Linked DNA regions of Homo sapiens: regions 1 and 2 are each linked to region 3. The links come from fine-mapping of genetic effects on gene expression. A gene starts in region 3. Each other region holds a variant in brackets. All regions are shown on one strand. Distances are from middle to middle. Region 1 has its middle 36 kb from the start of DISP1. Region 2 overlaps FAM177B (family with sequence similarity 177 member B). Region 3 holds the start of MIA3 (MIA SH3 domain ER export factor 3).

The links. PIP is the estimated chance that this variant, and not a neighbour inherited with it, causes the effect.
Region 1: its variant is fine-mapped to the expression of MIA3 in whole blood (INTERVAL, PIP above 0.99).
Region 2: its variant is fine-mapped to the expression of MIA3 in lymphoblastoid cells (TwinsUK, PIP 0.95).

What each region holds. Positions count from the first base shown.
Region 1 is chr1:222,776,096-222,782,578 of GRCh38, reverse strand. No RefSeq gene overlaps it. Among named protein-coding and RNA genes, the nearest start is that of DISP1, 36 kb to the left of the region's middle. The variant C/GTTTC (reference allele first, on the strand shown) is at 2,925.
Region 2 is chr1:222,746,174-222,752,656 of GRCh38, reverse strand. It overlaps FAM177B (family with sequence similarity 177 member B), which reads right to left. Exons shown (of 6, transcript NM_001394345.1): 3 at 5,938-6,126; 4 at 5,576-5,642; 5 at 3,095-3,192; 6 at 1,653-2,736. The coding sequence starts at 6,111. The coding sequence ends at 2,599. It overlaps LOC105372984 (a long non-coding RNA gene), which reads left to right. Exons shown (of 4, transcript XR_922641.3): 4 at 1,319-1,475. Among named protein-coding and RNA genes, the nearest start is that of FAM177B, 12 kb to the right of the region's middle. The variant T/C (reference allele first, on the strand shown) is at 2,648.
Region 3 is chr1:222,614,321-222,620,803 of GRCh38, reverse strand. MIA3 (MIA SH3 domain ER export factor 3) reads right to left here and starts at 2,707. Exons shown (of 28, transcript NM_198551.4): 1 at 2,561-2,707. The coding sequence starts at 2,693. RefSeq lists enhancers at 1,667-1,726, 2,007-2,889, silencers at 2,410-2,669, 2,840-2,909 and a cis regulatory region at 3,715-4,297.

The sequences.
Region 1 (6,483 bases), 160 kb before region 3:
ATTTCATTTATTTCCGCTCTAATATTTATTTCCTACCTTCTGCTGACTTGAGCTTAGTTTGTTTTTCCAGTTCCTTGAGGTGTGAAGTTAGGTTATTTACTTGGTGTCTGTCTTTTTCCTTAATGTAGGCATTTATCACCACAGACTTTCCTCTTAGCACCGCTTTTGCCCCATCCCATAAGTTTTGGTATGTTGTGTTCAATTTTCATTTGTTTCAAGACACTTTTTGAGTTTCTTTTGTTTTCTTCTTTGATCCATTGGTTGTTCAGGAGTGTATTGTTTAATTTTATGTATTTGTGAATTTTCTAAAATTCTTCCTATTGTCAATTTTTAGTTTTGTAACATTTCGATCAGAAAAGATACTTGATATGATTTCAATCTTCTTAGATTTAAGACTGGTTTTGTGGCCCAACGTGTGATCTACCCTGGAGTAGGTACTGTGTGCTCCTGAGAAGAATGTGTGTTTGCTTCTGTTGAATGGATTGTTCTGTCTATGTTTGGTAGGTTGATTTGTCTATAGTTTTATTCACATCTGCTATTTCATTACTAATCTTCTCTCTAGATGATCTATCCATTGTTGAATGTGGGTGATTGAAGTCCCTTATTATTATTGCATTGCTGTCTGTTTCTCTTTCTAGTTCTGTTAATATTTGCTTTACATATTTAGGTGCTCCAATGTTAGGTGCATATGTATTTACAATTGTTATACCCTCCTGATGAATTGACCTCTTATCATCATATTGTGATCTTCTTTGTCTTTTGTGACAGATTTTGTTTATTTTTTATTTATTTGTTTTTTTCAAGATAACGTCTGGCTCTGTTGCCAAGGCTGGAGTGCAGTGGCATAATCTTGGTTCACTGCAACCTCTGCCTCCTGGGCTTAAGCCATCCTCCCACCTCAGCCTCTCAAGTAGCTGGGACTACAGGCACACACCAACATGCCTGGCTAATTTTTGTATTTTTTGTAGAGATGGAGTTTTGCCATGTTGCTCAGGCTGGTCTTGAACTCATGTGCTCGAGTGAACCGCTCACCTAAGCCTCCCAAAGTGCTAGCATTCAAGGCATGAGCCACAGCACCTGACCTCTTGTGACAGATTTTGACTAAAAGTCTAGTTTGTTTAATATAAATATAGCTACCCCTGCTCTCTTTTGGTTTCCGTTTGCATGGAGTATCTCTTTCCACCCCTACACTTTCAGTCTGTGTGCCCTTGAGACTAAAATGAATCTCTTGTAGTTAGCATATTATTGGATCTTGTTTATTAATCCATTCGGCCTCTCTGTGTCTTTTGATTAGCAAATGTAATCCATTTATATTTAGAGTAATTATTAATAAGTAAGGGCATACTGTTGCCATTTTGTTAATTGTTTTCTGACTGTTTTGGATATGTCAACAAAAGCACTAGCGACAAAAGCAAAAATAAACATATGGGACTATATCAAACTGAAAAGCTACTGAACAGCAAATGAAATAATCAACACAATGAAAATGCAACCTGTGAAATGGGAGAAAACATATGCAAACTATATATCTGATAAAGGGTTAATATCAAAATGTACAACAAACTCCATAGCAAAAAAATAAGTAACCCAATTAAAAAATGGGCAAAAGACCTAAATAGGCATTTTTCCAAAGATGACACACAGATTGCCAACAGATATATAAAGAAGTGCTCAAAATCACTAATCACCAGAGAATTCTAATTAAAACCACAATGAGATATCACCTCACATCTCTTAGGATGGCTATTATCAAAAAGAAAAAAGATAACAAGTGTTGACAAGGGCATGAAGAAAAGGGAACCTTGTATACTGTTGGTGGAAATACCAATTGGTACAACTATTATGGAAAACAGTATGGAGGTTCCTCAAAAAATTAAAAATAGAACTACCATATGATCAAGCAATCCCACTTCTGGGTATATATCCAAATGAAATGAAATCAGTATCTTGAAGAGATATCTATATCCCCATATTCGTTGCAGCATTATTCACGATGGCCAAGATATGGAAACAACCTAAGTGCCCATTGACAGATGAATGAGTAAATAAAATGTGTTAGATACAATGAAAGATTATTCAGCCATAAAAAAAAATCCTGTCATTTGTGACAGCATTGATAAACCTAAAGGATATTATTCTAAGTGAAATAAGCTGGACACAGAAAGACAAATACTGTATGACCTCACTTGTATGTGGAATCTCAAAAAGTTGAACTCAGGGGCAGAAAGTAGAATGGTGGTTGCTAGGAGTTCGAAGTGGAAAAAATGGAGAGATGATGGTCAAAGAGTACAAACTTTCAGTTTTAAGATGATAAAGTTCTGGGGATCCAATGTATAGCATAGGTGGTAATAGATGGGTTAATTTGATTGTCCATATCACAATGTATATGCATATGCCTCATCACATTGTACACCTTGAGTATATACAATATTTGTCAATTAAATATTTTAAAATAAAAGAAAAAAGAAAAATCATAATTTATTTTAGAACTATATCTCAGTATTTAAATTAGTATCCTCGTATATTTTTTATCGTTCCTACTAAATAGAAAATCATAGCCTGGCGTGGTGGCTCACACCTGTAATCCCAGCAGTTTGGGAGTCTGAGGTGGGTGGATCACTTGAGGTCAGGAGTTTGAGACCAGCCTGGTCAACATGGTGTAACCCTGTCTCTACTAAAAATACAAAAATTAGCCAGGCGTGGTGGCATGCACCTGTAGTCCCAACTACTCAGGAGGCTGAGGCACAAGAATCGCTTGAACCCGGGAGGAGGAGGTTGCAGTGAGCCGAGATAGCACCACTGCACTCCAGCCTGGGCGACACAGCGAGACTCTGTTAAAAAAAAAAATCAGTAATCATGTGGTAAATAATAATAATAATAATTATTATAAAAGAACAGGGAAATTCTTTAGTCTCCTTTTGTTT[C/GTTTC]CTATTACTCCTCTCCTCTGCCAAAATTTACAATCTGTTATCTATTCTTTCATGCTTCATTTGTATTCATACAATCACGTATAAACTATATATAATAAGCTTTTCTTTTCTAATTCATGTGTATTTTACAAAAATGGGATCATATTATCTGTATTCCTTTGTGTCTAGTTTTTTTTACTTTTTTTTTTCTCTTGATACATTATGGAATTTCCCTCAGTGGTATACATCCAACTCATTCTTTTTTTTTTTTTTGAGACGGGTTTTCCCTGTCACCCAGGCTGGAGTGCAGTGGTGCAATCACGGCTCACTGCAGCCTTGACCACCTAGGCTCAAGCAATCCTCCTATCTTAGCCTCCTGAGCCACCACACCTGGCTAATTTTTAAATTTTTTTGTAGGTACGGGATCTCCTTATGTGGTCCAGGCTGGTCTCAAACTCCTGGGCTCAAGCAATCCTACTGCCTTGGCCTCCCAAAGTGCTGGGATTACAGGAGTGAGCCATCATGCCCTGCTGCAACTCGTTCTTTTCAATAATTAACTTATATTCCATGGCTTAATTGTATCACAGTTTCTTCCACCATATTGAAAGGCATTTACTCAGTTTCTAATTTTTTGCTGCAACAAACAACGCTATGGTAAACATCTTTGCATGTATATTTTTACATATTGGAATTTCACTTATAGCAGATAGATTTCCAGAAGGATTTCTCCATCAGAGTATGTAAATTGTAAAATTTAAAATATATATCTGGATTGCTTTCCATAAAAGCTGTAACAATCCAAATTTCCCCTGGCAATATATGCACAGAATAGGTTTTTTTCACATTTTCATCAATAGTAAGTTTTTATTGTCTGCTAATTTGGTAGATAAGTTGAGACATCTCATTGTTACTTTAATTTGCATTTTCTCCACATTAGAAAATATTTTCATTGGTTTATTGACCATTTGCATTTCTCTTCTATAAATTGACTTTTTATATTTATTTGTCTCTATTTCTGTATTCTGTTGATAGTCAATTTATAGGAACCTTCTGACAGATATGCATATTCATTTTATGTGTGAGTTATTTTTGTGGCACATACTTTTTATCAATCTTTTTGTCTTGTGATTTTGTTTTTATTTTGCCATATAACATTTTATATTTTATATCATCGAATATATTTATTTTATATTTTATTGCCTCTAGGCTCTTGTCTTGATTAAAAAGGTTTCTCTCTCCAAACCCTAGCTTACACATATATTCTTTTAAAATTGTTCTATAGTTTTTGTTTACATATAGAGTTTAAGTTTTTCTGGAAATTTATTTTTGTATATGGTGTGAAGCAGGGATCCCAATTTTATTCTTCTCTAGGCCAGTTGTGTCATAACCAATTTAAAATAAACCATAGTTTTCCCATTAACTTGAAATAGCACTTTTGGCATACAGCCATGCATTGCTTAACAATGGGAATACGTTCTGAGAAATGCATCATTAGGTGATTCTGCCTTTGAGTAAACATCATAGAGTGCCCTTACATAAACATGGATGATAGAGCCTACCGCACATCTAGGCTATATGGTATAGCCCATTGCTCCTAGGCTACAAACCTGTACAGCATGTTACTGTACTGATATTGTAGGCAATTGTAACACTGTGGTAAGTATTTGTGTATATAAACATAGGAAAGGTATGGCAAAAATATAGTATTATAATCTTATGGGACCACTGTCATATATGCAGTCCATTGTTGACCAAAATGTAGTTATATAGTGCCTGACTATATATTCAGTTATCATATATATATACTGACATCTATTTCTGGACATTTTTTTCTCTTCTACTTTTCTTTTTGCCTATTACGATACCAATATCATAAGGTTAATACAAAGGCCAAGAAGGAGACAATGGAAGAATACTTTTTCTATTGTCCATGCCCTAGGTGTGTGGTAGGCTATACAATTTAGGTTTGTGTAAGTACACTCTGTGATGTTTGCACAATGACAAAACCACCTAATGATGCATTTCTCAGAACATATCCTCACTGTTAAGCAACATCTGACTGTATGCCAAAAGTGCTATTTGAAGTCAATGGGAAAACAATGGTTTATTTTATATTGGTTAGGACACAACTGGCCTGGAGGAAAATAAAGTTAGACCCCTGTTTCACACCATATACAAAAATCAATTTCCAAAAAAACTTAAAATCTGTATGTAAACAAAAACTATAGAACAGTTTTAAGAGAATACATGTATAAGCTTGGGTTTGAAAAGAACTTTTTAACCAAGATAGACCTAGAGGCAATAATACATAAAAACTATTCTCTTTGATGTATTGTTGATAGAAGTAAGCTTCTTATATCACATGTGAAGTGGAATAATATCACTTGAATGTAGACTGTGATATGTTAAAGATGCACACTATAAGGCAACCAGTAAATTAACATTAAGAACAAAGAGTTATAGCTAATAGGCCAATAAAGGAGATAAAGTCATACTTAATCCAAAAGAAGGAAGGGTAAGAGGAAAAAGAGAACAAAAAACCCAGATAAAACACATAAAAAAAAAATAGAACCCCAACCATATTAACAAGTATGTTAAATGTAAATGGTCTATACACCCCAACTGAAAAACAAACATTGTCAGACTGGTTGAAAAGTAAGACCCAGCTATATGTTGTCCACAAGAAACCCACTTTAAATATAGACACATGTAAGCTAAAGGTAAAACAGTGAAAAAAAAAGTCATCTTATGCAAACCCTAATCGAAAGAAAGCTAGAGTGGCTATATTAATACAGACAAAGTAGACATCTGAGTGAGAAATATTACTAGGGATAAAGAGGGTCAATCACAATGATAATGAGCAACTACCATAACATTTTAGTACTAGATCTTAAAATACGTTTTAATATCTGGAAAGGGAAGTATCTCTCAGTATTCTTCTTTTTCACAATTTTTAAAAAGTCTTTAACCTTTAGTCTTCTATAAAAGCTTTAAGATCATTTTATCTCATTAAAGAATATAATAGTGGCCCGGTGCAGTGGTTCTTGCCTGGAATCCTAGCACTTTGGGAGGCTGAGGCAGGAGGATTGCTTGAGGCCAGGAGCTCAAGACTAACCTGGTTAACATAACATGACCCCATCTCTGAAGAAAAAAGAATAGAAAAGTGAATCTCATTGAAATATATTGTATATGCCTATTAATATTTGGAAGATTATATTGTCTTCCTAACTAAAAGCATAGTTTTTTATTGGTTCTTTTTTGATCCAGGATTTATTTAGAAAGACACTTTTTAATTTTCAAGTAGAAAAAAATACAATTACCATCCTTTAGTTATTTATATTTAATGTAATTGGTATTTGATTAAAGAATTTTGCCTGAAAAAATATCTACTTTAAAATTTTTATTAACAACCTTTATGGTCAAGGTAATACCAACTTTGGAAAATGCTTCACAAACAATAAAATAGTTCTCCATTTATAGGACATAAAACTTTGGACTTTTGCATTATTCAGTCTTTATATGTCTTACATTTTTTACTACTGTATCTATTGATCTGAAAGACATGAGTTAAAATCTCTCA
Region 2 (6,483 bases), 130 kb before region 3:
TAGAGACATAGGTAGATAGACAGATAATTGGATAGATAGATACAATGAGATTTATTATGAGGAACTGAATTTATTGTGATTATGGTGGTTGAGAAGTCCCACAATCTGCCATTCACCAACTGGAGACCCAGGAAAGCCAGTGATGTAAATCAGTTTGAGTTCAAAGACCTAAGAATGAGAGAAGCCAAGGTAGTAAATCCCAGTCCATGGGCAGGAGAAGATGAAATGAGATGAGATATCCAAGCTCAAGCAATAAGGCAGAAAAAAGGAGCAAATTCTTCCCTCCTTGGCCTTTTGTTTCATTCAAGCCCTCAGTGGATTGGATGGTGCTCATCCACATTGGGAAGGCAATCCATTTACTGAGTCCAACAATTCAAATGCTAATGTCATCCAGAAATATCCTCACAGATACACCCAGAAGTAATGTTTAATTTGGGCATCCTGTGGCCCAGTCAAGTTGACACATAGAATTAACCATCATAAATATTAATAATTGTAATTGATACTATGACTTAAGCACCTTATTAGAGCCACAGCTTTACGTGCTTTTCCTCAATTTTAACATGAAACAGTCATGGGATACCTACCTAGCTCACTGCAATTTCCTTTTCCTGAGAACCATCTTAACCCAGAAATAGGTCCCATAACCATGTTGCTACTACAAGGCTCCATCTCCCTGGCCACAATTAATTGAATTAGAGAGTGATACTTGACAAAAAGGAGCAAAACAGATTCTATCCACACTATGCTTTGAAATGGGGACGAAAGACTAGTATATCAGTCACTTGAACAGAAGAATTATCAAGAGCTATAGAGTGGGCATCTTCCTCATGGGCAAGAAAGATGAGAGATGGACAGACAGTACCTGTTGGGTGCTTGCTTGTCACACTGTTTAGATCCTATTGAGACTAATCTCCCTTTGGTGTCCATTTGATAACTCAGTGTACTTTCCACAAAATTCTTTTTTGTTGCATAAAGCTGGTTCAAATTATATTTGCTTCCTGTCTCAAACCTGTTTTATAGATGAGAACATTGAGAAGTTGAGTAATTTGCACAGAGCTACTGGGTTACAAAGAGGCAGGAGAGCTGAGATTAAATCAATATCATATTGATCCTTGAGCCTACCATTTATCTCCTATGCCATTAGAAGAAAGTGTTTCCTTTTCTCAGCTATCTTAGGAGGCTCAGACACCCATAAAATTAATTATAGCCATGTGATTTTCTTTGGTGAACGAAACATACACAGAGGTGACATGATTCATTTTTAGTGGAGATATTGATTGCCACTGCTTAACTCTCCATGCTGTTCCTTTTCCAGCAACCCCGAGAGCACATCACAGTATGGAGAAAACATAAGATCAAAGAAGCATGCAACACTGAGCTATCACACGGAGAACACCTGTCTGGGAAGCCACCTAAACTGACAGTGGACTTCTCAAGAGAAAGAAATAAACTTTCTTGTTTTAGGACACTGAGATTTTGGAGGTGTCTGTGCAGCATAATCTATCCTATCCTACTATATTCAACTCACAACTCCTTATGCTCCAGGCCTACTTCTGTCTTTGATTTCATATTAAATTAATTCCAACTTCCTCTTCTCTTAGAGCTATAATTTCAGTTATATATGGCTGCATAACAAACCACTCCAAAGCTTAAAACAACAATAAATTATTATTTCTCATAATTCTGTATAACAATAACAAGCAAAGTCAAGTCACCCATATTTTACAAAGTAGACTGGAGCTCAGAAATCTAGACATCTCAAATCACACAACTAGTAAATGGGAGAAGTGAAACTGGAACTCATGTCTTACTACTGCAGGCCCTGTGTTTTTCATTTTTTTTTTTTTTGGTTTGTTTTTTGCTATTAATGTATCACAGTTACTTTGGCCAGCACACCCTGTGTTATCTAACAATGATTTCCATGTTCGATCTTTCCAGGTTTTGAAAATTTCTTGACAAATAAATAAGAAAATAATCCATTAATATTTTTTTCTAGAGCTTATATTATTTATCAATTGTTTTAATTTGGAGGGATGTACCTAATTCTTAAAGATCTTGATAATGATCTTGTAACACAGTTATTAGCAATGTTTACTTATTGTAAAACAATCCCCAACTACGCCAGGATGGTTGTTGGAAGTACACACTATATCAAATCCTGAAAGGGGATTTATTTAGACTTTGCGGTGCCCAAATTTTCTTCTGAGGAATAGAGCTTCTTTACTGTACCCTCGTCCCATGACAGAGGATTTCAGCCAAAAACTCCCAGTCCCAAAGTTCCTTAAGGCATTTATGCTACTGTGCAAATGTCAGTACTCATGGGACTTGTATCACAGGGGTGGAGTTGAGGTGGGGTGGCTTGAATATAGAAATTATTCTGAGAAAGTGTCCAAAATTACTCTCATTATTGCTTGTAATTCCTGGATGCTTGAGACTAAGTCACACAGAGATTAGGATCAGATCTGGCTCAGAAGTGCTACCTCTGGTGTTGTTGCCATGGTAATCAATGGCCAAGGAACAGATCCAGGGAAACTGCAGTCTTTGCTGCCATCATGAGCTAGGATCTGCCACCAGACCCTCCCTGGATGAGGTGCTTCACTGAGGAATGGCCTCTGTCACATCCTGTTGTATGGTTCCATACTCT[T/C]GGACCCCAGCCTCCAAGTGACACTTTTCATTAGGAACCTCAGCTGCCTGGGCCTTTGATCCTCTCCTTTCACTTTTGTTGTCACTTTTCTGTTTTGGAGAGAAATAAGGAAATGTTTAACTGTACAAACAAAGACCTCTGAACTCCCCCTCTTGTATATAATGCCCATGTAAGAAGCTTCTACTTTAAGCAATCTGAGCCTTCTCACCCAACTACCTTCTTCTACAACACAGCTCATGACATCCTAACTTCGCAGGAGTGAGGCAAATGTGAAGAAGTGTCCCTGGGTGAACAGAACTAGAAAAATAAGTCAGTCTGACTATGGGAGCTTGGTGAAATTATAGTACATATGACCAGGTGGGAAAAATACTTCTCTATACTGGCCTAAATTTGGAGCAACCAATATTCCCATCTCAGGCCCCTTGTTTCCATCAGAGTGTCACATACCTTGTTTTGTATCCTATAGAACTCGTTTAACACATACTGATATTTGGGTTGAGTAAGACCAAAGAAGACAGCAAATCTTCCACCAAGGAATTCACATGCTAAAAGAAAGAACGAGCACTTGCGTAAACTGAATTACTAACTAAAGCTTCGCATCAGTTGAGATGCCCAGAGTTTAAACTATTCTGATAGTATAGTAATAGTGGTCTATTACTATACTTAACTTCAAGGCTGACAAAACATTTCAATTGCCTTGGCCTCTCAAAAATTCTAGGATTCAAAGGAAATTTGTCAAATCTTCTATCTTTATATGGGATTATATATAAACTATTTTTTCCAGATGTATATATCAGGAGAGATTTTCAATATACTTTAACAACAGGTATAGCATGGGTCCTGAGCAATCAGAACAGGTATTGTTCATTATCCCCATGCATACCGGCTAAACATCTGCTCCAAGTATATTTCAAATTAAACCCAAACTCAATCCAGTGTTACCAAGACCCACATCAGGAATTCTTCCATGCATCCAGACAGACTTCTCAGAAGTTGTTTAAGGCCTTCCTTTTCTGCCTTCAGTAGCAAGGTGGCCTGCAGGCTCAGCACTGGGATTGTTAGAGTCAGGGATAAAGGCATAGCATGAATAATGAGTGGTTTCCTAAAGAAGTCTCCTAGAAAAGTTTTCCTTTACAATTAGAGGATTTCCGACAGCCTTCTCTTACCCCTGAATTATAGGACTTTCTGATTCCTCTGACTCATTCTACCTCTTGGGATATTGCTCATATAGGGCATCAAAATGATGCTGTTTTTAAATATGTCTTATCTTTTCATTAATATGCTATCTCTTTGTCCTGTTTATTTGCTGCACTGCCTAGTACATGTGTAGAAGATAACTTTTTAAAAAAATATTAAAATAAATCTTAGGAAGCTTTCCTGTTTATGACCTACTAGAATTTTAAATTGAAAAAATTAATTACCTGTGTCGTCTGAGTTCCAACTCCATTCAAACAAAATCTCTGTGTAGACAGACCACAGCACTGACTGCTAGCATCTTTATGCCTCCACTACAATCTTGAAGCCCCAGTCAGGAGCATTTTACCACTGCAGTTCTGTTTGGCACTCACAAGGAAGCTAGGCTCACCATACATCCTATCCCTGCAATCTCAAATCAAAACCCAACATGCAAATCATTCTTCTTCTCCATACTCTCAATCCCATATTGAGTTTTGCTTCTTTTACCTGACCTAATCTTCTCCAATTCCCTCCCTCTAAAACATATCTTTTCAAACCCTTTTGCCTTAACCGAAGTGTAGAGAGCTTTCTGGAAGACAGCATTTTTTTTTCTGTTAACTTATTGTGGTCAGGGTAGGGTTGGTATTCACGGGATTTTCAACGTAACTTCCAAATCACTAACCCTCTGCACTTGTGTAAAAGCACTTATTTCTTGAAGGTTCATACCATCTGCCTAAATCACCCCATCTTTACTTTTTACTGTAATCTAAAGATTCCCTGGTCACTTTCATGGTCCTCAAGCTAGCCTTAGCCAGCCACACTTTCATAGCTCTCTTAAGGGGTCTCCCCCACATGTCAGCATGCCCGAGTCTTCCAGGTCAGAGCCCCTATACACTTTCTACCCTGGCAACTGTGACAACAAATTATAATTACGAGCATGTTTGCTGGTCTATATGACTCACTGAATATTGAGTCCCTTGAAAGCAGAGACTTGTCATTCATCTTTGTGTCCCAGGGTCCAGCACAGTGCTGAGCATATAGTAGACACTTACTAATGTTTTTTAAATGAATGAATGAAGATCAATTTCTAAGAGCTATTAATACAATTTCTATTTTCTCAGACTCTTAGTTTGCCTTCCTATCATATTCACAAGATGTGCAAGTTAGAAGGAAATGAGTAATTAGATGTTGTCAACTATGTCTTAAAAAAATTGATGAAAGTCAAGCAAAATAAGATTTAGTATTTTAGTTGTTATAAGTATTCACTTAGCCCATTCATTATGCCCCCAGGAGGGATCGATAAAGTTCATGTTTATAATAAAGCAGTTATGATGAGGGAAGTTAGAAACTTAGAACTGTGTCATACAACAATCATTGTTTTTTTAACTTGGAAGTTTATTCAGAAGAAGAGTCAACTCAGGGAGGACTGATTATTGCCCTCAAATATTGCCCTCTGTCCTATGAAAGAGGCATCTATAGCAGTTTTGTATGGTTAAGAAAGATAAGTAGGAACTTTAGAAGTAGATAAAATTTGGGCCGAGATAAGAATTTCCTGATGAGAGTTGGTAAAAGATGAAGGGTCTGCCTGAGGATGCGAAGTTCTGTGCCTTTGGGAATGAAAGCTTAGCCCAGATCTCACTTATTCAGGATGCGATGGAGTGGCTTACACAATTGGAAGTCCCACATACTCTGAGGGCCTATCGATATATATATTTGTTTAGGATAGAAAAAAATAACCTTAGCAGTACTTACTAGAAAATGAGGTGCTTGCTATTCGTCCTGCCCAAAATCGTAGGTAGGGCCCCCAGGAAAGTTTAGACTGAAAAAAGGAGAAATTGAGATAGAGTAGTTAATAAGAGGAATGGTGACTGCAGATTTGTTTTAATGTAGAGATTTCAAAATGCTCTATATAATATGTTCCATTTTCTCTCTCACAGATGAAGAGACCAAGATGATTAAAATTGTAAGTTGCCTATGCATGGATTTAGAAAGCAAAAAAGGAGACCAAGGACTTAGCTTAAAGCTATTCTTTCTATAAACCTTGTCTGGCTCAATCTCTTGTTCATTCACCGCCTCCCCCACCATGTTCCCTAATATTGATATACTAAGCTTACAGGGTCAAGTGTTGAATTTGTGCTCTGCTCCTCCTTTTCCTCTTCCTCCTCCTCCTCTGTGCTATATTCTTCCATGATGTCTCCGTCAACAAAATGGATAATCCTTTTAGGAGTAGTCTTTTTGGAAGGTACACTCTTCTCTAGGTCTAACTGCTGGAAACCGTCAATCTCCATAATGAAACAAAACAACTAGAAAATTAAAAACAGGGCACCTTAGGGCAAGTTACCCAGAGCTGAGAGTTATCTAGTTATTTTCAATGGATAGTAAAGACAGAGAACTCAGAGGTAATCACACCTGTGACCTCATCGATTCCTCAAATCCAAAAAAGGACTGTTCTATTCTGTACCAAAATGGAAGAGATTTGATAAATAGCGAAAACGTGAACTTACAGTCTTCAAACAAAAGTGTCAACAGGGTTTTCTTACCTTTTGTTAACGTTAAAACACACAATTGCTAGTAGGAAGGGGTCACTATCCTGCAGACGTTTCTCAATTATTTCAATAAATATTGAGAAGCAATGAAGGAAATGGTTAAGAGTACAGACT
Region 3 (6,483 bases):
TTCATAAAAAGCTTCCTTTTGCAAATGGGTAAATTCAAGCCCAGATGATGATTAACTTAAGCATGGCTACATGAACGGGTAATAGGGAACTAGAGTACCCAGGAACCCCCAAGAGGTCAATTAACTTGAACTAACCACTAAAAGGGTCTATCTTCAAGTGACTGTAACCAGTACTATGTAGCAGTAAACACTGTCAATTTCATTTGCAGCCAAGTTGTTCCCTTAGTACAGTGTCTGGATAAATTAATGGGAAAAGATATCTATCACACCCTACTATAGATTCAATTACATCACAAGGCAATATTTTCTGAAAGTAAATAATGTTGACTGTATCCAAAATTAAGTTTCAAAACAAAGGAAAGAATACCCTTATGTATATTTTTCTATAAACAAAATCAAAAGTCGACATCTCATTTGGCTGGGACTAAGCAAAACTATGAGAATAGGTCAGTAATTCAATCACGCTTGATCTAGAAACTGGCTGAAGCAGTACTTTTATTTTTGTTGACCACATACACAGTTTCCCATGTAAGATGAAATGGACAATAAATACATCTAAATAGCAGAGACAAAGAAGGACGAATAGAAATAAGATTTTTTCCAAAAGCCAATTTGCAATAAAATACATTAAAAACGTGCCTTTAAATGGCTATACACGCATATAGATTTGGAAGGGGCTACTTGTTTTTTGAAGCTAAACTCTGATTACTTTCCAACATGTCAGCTTTGTAGCTCAGATATAATTGAGTGTGAGGCCAGGTTTAAGATGATGGACAATTTAAGGTTGGGAATAAGATCAGAATTGAAAATGGCAATGTTTCTTTTGCTCCCCCTTACAATAGATCATAGAGGATTTATAATAATATTTGAGATGCCAACAAAATGCACCCTGTGGAACAGCTATTTGAAAACCACACAAGGGCACCGTACATACTCACATTACTAAACACTTTCTACAACACAACACAGACCCATCTAGACCTTGCTCCTGTTGATGCCTATTGTATTTGGTTTCCTCTGAACACGTACCATTTCTCAAGTTATGTTACAACCGTGAGCTCTTCTAACATCATGCCTCAGTACTGAAGAAGCATCAGTGATGTGATGATTCTCCAGGTAACCTGTTTTGAGGAACCCAGGCAGGGCAATGCTTGCAAGCAAAGAATACCAACTATCTTGCCATTGCCAACGGCAAATGGGTAACAGCGTGGCTTTGACCCAAGAAAACTAAAGGGAAAAATCATGGCAGTTGTACCGCTTTTGTAGTGTTTATTTACATCAACCACAGGGTTATCTCTAGGAATGGCTTCACACTCATTAGAGATCTCTTTTCTTGATTAGTGTTGTAGAGATACAAACAGTTCATATTATGAAATTCGGTTTTGATAACATCAATTTGAATATAAATAGCTAAACCATAGAGTTCTTGGCCTTCTTAAAATGAATACGTTTCTATAGGCATTGCTTAACAGTGTATGAAAAACCGTTTCTGCAGTGGCTATCAGTAAGTTACAAGGTTGAGACGGTCTGGGAGGCCCTAAAATGATCCTGGTCCGGCGAACATAGAGGGAAGAGGTTTCAACACGCAAGCGGCTAAGGCTAAACCAAGCTTGGCTTATGAGACCCTTGGAGTATTTACTGTCATTCCTGTAATAACCTTCTTCATCTGAGCCTGAAGATCTGTGCCCTCTCCACCGCCCACCTCCAATCCCAGACTGGAGAGCAATTCCGCTTCCTGCGCACAGAAGAGGAGGCTGCCGGTCCCAGGTGGCCGGTGCAGATCCTCGGTCTCTGCAGAGCGAAAGATTTTGGTCTTCCTGCAGTCCTGCCTAGCAGTCTGCAAGGCGGCTTCCAAGCACAGAAACGACAGGATTGATCAAAGTCGGGGCAGAGACCTCGGAATACAATGAGTGCTTGGACTCCAGACTCGTCCCAAACCTAAACTCCCAATTCCTGTTCAAAAGGCGGTACAAGCCCAAATCCCAATAAAGCAGAAGGGCAAAGGAGCAGCGCCAGGGAGCCTTTCCAAACAAACCCCACCATCAACCTGCCACTGGGAAAACGCCCACCGAGCCCTTAGCGCATCTGCCGGGGTGATGCACCCACCGAGGTCCCCGCAGCGCGGGCAGGAAAGCTTTGGTTGCGGCGTGGGGAGCCCAGACGCGCGGCGCGCAACCACATCTACCCTCCGAGCCCAGGCGGATTGGGGGGGTGGGAAGGGGACGCTGTGAGCCACTATTGGGGAAGCCGGGGACCACCGCAAGCAACCCCCCGCCTCAGCAGAGGAAAAATAAAACGCTGGCAACAAGTGGGAGGTGCAGCCCCCATGGTCAGGCCCGAGGGGCCGGGCGCAGGCAGAGCGGGAGAAGGCAGACACAGGGACCCGGAGCGCGCCCACCCCCGCGTTCAGCCCATCCCGCCTGCGACCCCCGGGCCGGCCAGGGGCTGCGGAACTCCCGTCCCCGCACAGCCCAGGCGGCGCCGCCGCGGAGACCCCCGGGGCCGGCGGAGACCCCAAGGCCAGCCGCCCCGAGGCCAGCCGCCCCTCCAGCGCACTCACTGCTGCATTCGTCGTCCGCGCAGAGTTTGTGCTCCGAGAACCGCCGGCCAGTGCTGGGGTCCAGCTGGCCCGGCACCCGCCAGGGCAGCCGGAGCACGAGCAGCCAGACGAGCAGCCCAGGCGCCGCAGCCATGTTGTGGTCACCTCGGGGAGCCGGTGACGCGGAGGAGGAGGCCGGGGCGGGCGCAGAGGGGCGGGACGGGGGCGGGGACGGGGCGGGGACGGGGGGGCTGGGGCGGGGGCTGGGGCGGGGACGGGGCGGGGACGGGGGCGGGGACGGGGGCGGGGGCGGGGGCGGGGACGGGGCGGGGACGGGGGCAGGGACGGGGGCAGGGACGGGGGCAGGGACGCGGGCAGGGACCAGGCGGAGCGCCGGGGGCATGTGGGAAGACAAGCGCAGAGGGGCGGCGCCCGCGAAGGTCTGAGCAGTTTCCGACTGACACGTCAGCAGAGGCTCTAGGAGGGATGCGGGAGACCTCCAGGAGGAGGACTGACAGCAGCCTCCTCCTCTCCTCGAAGCCTTCTCCTCTGGTCGCTGCCGTGGCAACCAGGACTCCCTCGCCCAATCACCTGCCTTTGCCCCAGTCCCTCGCAGCACCTCCGCGTGACTCCATTCTTAGTTCACCCCTCCCCGCGCGCTTGGGTCCCCCAACCCTGCGCCATCTCAACAGGTCCCTTCTGGCGCCTTCTCGCAGTTTCTGGTTTGTGGCCTGTCCCGAACCAGCCCCCCACTTCACCCCGCTACTTCACCCCGCTACCCCCACTCTTGGCATGGTACCTCCTTTTCTGAACTGCCAAATCCCACCCGCGATTTGCCACTGTTAGTCTCTGGTTTCAGGCTCCCTCCTTTTCAGCCTCCCAGGGCTTCCTTGGGGGCACCATCCCGTGGTGCTCTTTGATTAAGAAAGGGGGAGGTGAGTGGAATAGGGGGCTGAGGATATAAATCAGAGCCCGTGGCCTGCTTGGTCGTTGATAGAAATGGGTAATGGTCCTTGGGCTGAGATCTTGAGATTCCTAGATCTATATCCATAGGAAAAAAGTAAATTAATTTAATAACAGTGTGATGAGCTTCCATTTTATACTTATTTCATGCCAGAATTAAGATTAATCTTCACAACAATCGCACCTTAGAGTAGTAGGTCCTATTATGATCCCCATTTCAGAGATGACTACCTTAAGGCATTCAAACACCTAGTGAGTGATGGAGCTAAGATTCAAACCCAGGTAGTATGCTCCTTTTTAATCACAGCTCTGTAAAGCCTCCATCAAGCAACAAGCAATTTTTGTACTTTCTTTCTGAGCAGGGAAGCAAAATCTTATTTAAATCATACTATAACTGGATGATTTATATGTGCAGTTAAAAAAGCGGGGGACTGCATGAGCAGGTCAGCCCAGAGAAGAGTGGCTACAATGCTCTCCAGAAGAGTGGCTACAATGCTCTCCAGCCCTGGTTGAAGAACTTGGCATCTGTCTGTGACCAGCAGCTTCTCATTGCAATCTCTAAGGTTACTCATCAACCTTGAACAACAAACCCAGCAGCTGGTTTCCCAAACAAATCGTATTACTTAAAAGCAAGAAGAAAGAATGTGGCTTGTCTGTGCAATCCATTATATCGAATAAGGAAAAAACGGTAAACAGATGCTCACAAATTTTTGTCTGTAGGAGCCGTGAGAGTTCCTACTGGGCCAATGTAATTCCAATGCTGTCTTGAGAAATATACATTTGGTAAGGTCACGGACAAGCACTTTCTATCCAAGTAGTAGTTCTGTTCATTCTTCATTTCTTTTCTACTGTGTATTTATTTGTTTTAATATCTTAGATGTGTCTAATAGGCATCTCTAACAATATGTTGAAAACCAAACTCTTTATCTTTTTCTCTCAAACTCTGCTCCTTTCGGTCTTCCCTATTTGAGGAATAGGAATGACAATTTAATTCCTATCTTCTAGGTGCTTAAGCCAAAAACATACAAACCATCCTCGACCTCTTTTTTCTCACACCCAAGTCCAATCCATCAGACAATCCCATGTCTTTTTTAATAGCTTTGTTGAAGTATAATTAACCTACAATAAATTGCACATGTTTAAAGTGTACAATGATAATTTTTGACATATGTCTACACCCATGAGACCATTACCACAATGAAGTTAATTAACATATTCATCAACATCACCTCTGAAAGAGTTCTCATGATCCTTTATAATCCCTCCCTCCCTTGTCCCAGCTGTCTTCAGACAACCTTCTGTCACTGCAGATTGGTTTGCATTTTCTAGAATTTGATATAAATGGAATAATATCGTATACATTCTTTTTTTGTCTGACTCTTTCACTCAGCATAAACATTTGAAATACATTCAGAATCTGACCACTTCTCCCCATCTCCAGTGCCAGCAGTGCAGGCCAGGCCACCCATCTCTCACCTGAATAACTGCAATAGCCTTGTCATGTTCTTGCTTCTGCTCTTGCCCTTCCAAAGTCATAGTCTCAATAGTAGCTAAAGCAATTGTTTTATGAAATAAATGTGGTCATGCCTCTCCCCTGCTCATAACCTTCCCATGGCTTCCCATTTCCAAGTAAAATGCAATTACTTTTTTATGGAGTACACTGTCTTATTTAATTTTACTCCTCTGCCCTTTTACCCTCATTTCCTAACACTCCTCCCTTGCTCTGTTGGTTCCACTCAGATACACCAAGCCTAATCCTGCATTCGTGTATCTGCACTTGCAATTTTCCGTCAGCCTGGAATAATTCCCCAAATAGTCTGCCTGGCTAACTAGTTTCCTCACTTCATCGTGTCTCTGTAACAGTGCCATATCTTACAAGTGAGGCCTTCCCTGATACCCCTACGTAAAACAGAACTCCTTCTCATGACTAGCTGGCTCATCACTGTGCTTTATTTTTCTTTAGAGCGTTTACCACCTGCCTTATGTTTATCTACTTTACTGCCACCCAACCTCCAATATAAGCTCCATGGAAGCAGCGGATTTGTCTGTTTTGTTCACTGCTGTAATATCAGTGCCTAGAACAATGTCTGGAATATATAAGGTACTCAACAAATGATTTGTTGAATAAACCCACAGATCTTCACACATTATAAATATATTATGCTATTAACCTAAATAAAGCCTCCATAAAATGAATAGTACCAAAAGGGAATATACCATGAAAACAAGGCATTTGGTGTCTTCCCCTCAGTAGCATCCTTACCGCCAAGGACAGAACCTGAAATGTATTTACTGTTGAATGAGGGTGTATTTGTTGCAGAGGGAGTGGATGAAATAGCATGTATTTTTTCCCAATATACTACCAGAATATTAAAGCAGATTTAAAACATGATTTTATCTTATTTCTCCTTAGATTAGAATTAATAACAATTAATTGATGAAAAAAACAAAACTCCAACATGATCTAATCGAATATTATTACTTTACAAAGTGAATAATATTCACTTTGACTAATATTTACAAAAGCTTTTACATGAAAGGTCAGAGCTCTCTGTTACTGAAGAACTAGCTACTTAAGTGTGTAGATTTTATAGGGTTTTGATTTATTTACATTTTTGAAAAAATCATTTTCTTAAAAAGATATTGACAAGCCTGGTGGATAATTAGAAGACAGTTCTCAGCTGACCATAGTGAAGGTAGGGGTGGTGGTTCTTCCTCCTAGCATATATAAAATTAGGGGATGAATCAGAATTCATTTTCACTCATAGCGTTTGAATATGTGGCATTGATGTTTAACATAAACTCTAATCCTACATGTATTATTTGGTAACACTTCAAATGGAATTTTCAAATGGGTAAAGATTAAGTAAGAGTTAAAAATAAATTTGCCTAGTTTTGGGTGGAAGATACATAGAAATGTAACATTGGAGGGTTTCTGACCTCAGGGAATTTGCAGTCTAAATGAGAAAACAAGAGATAAC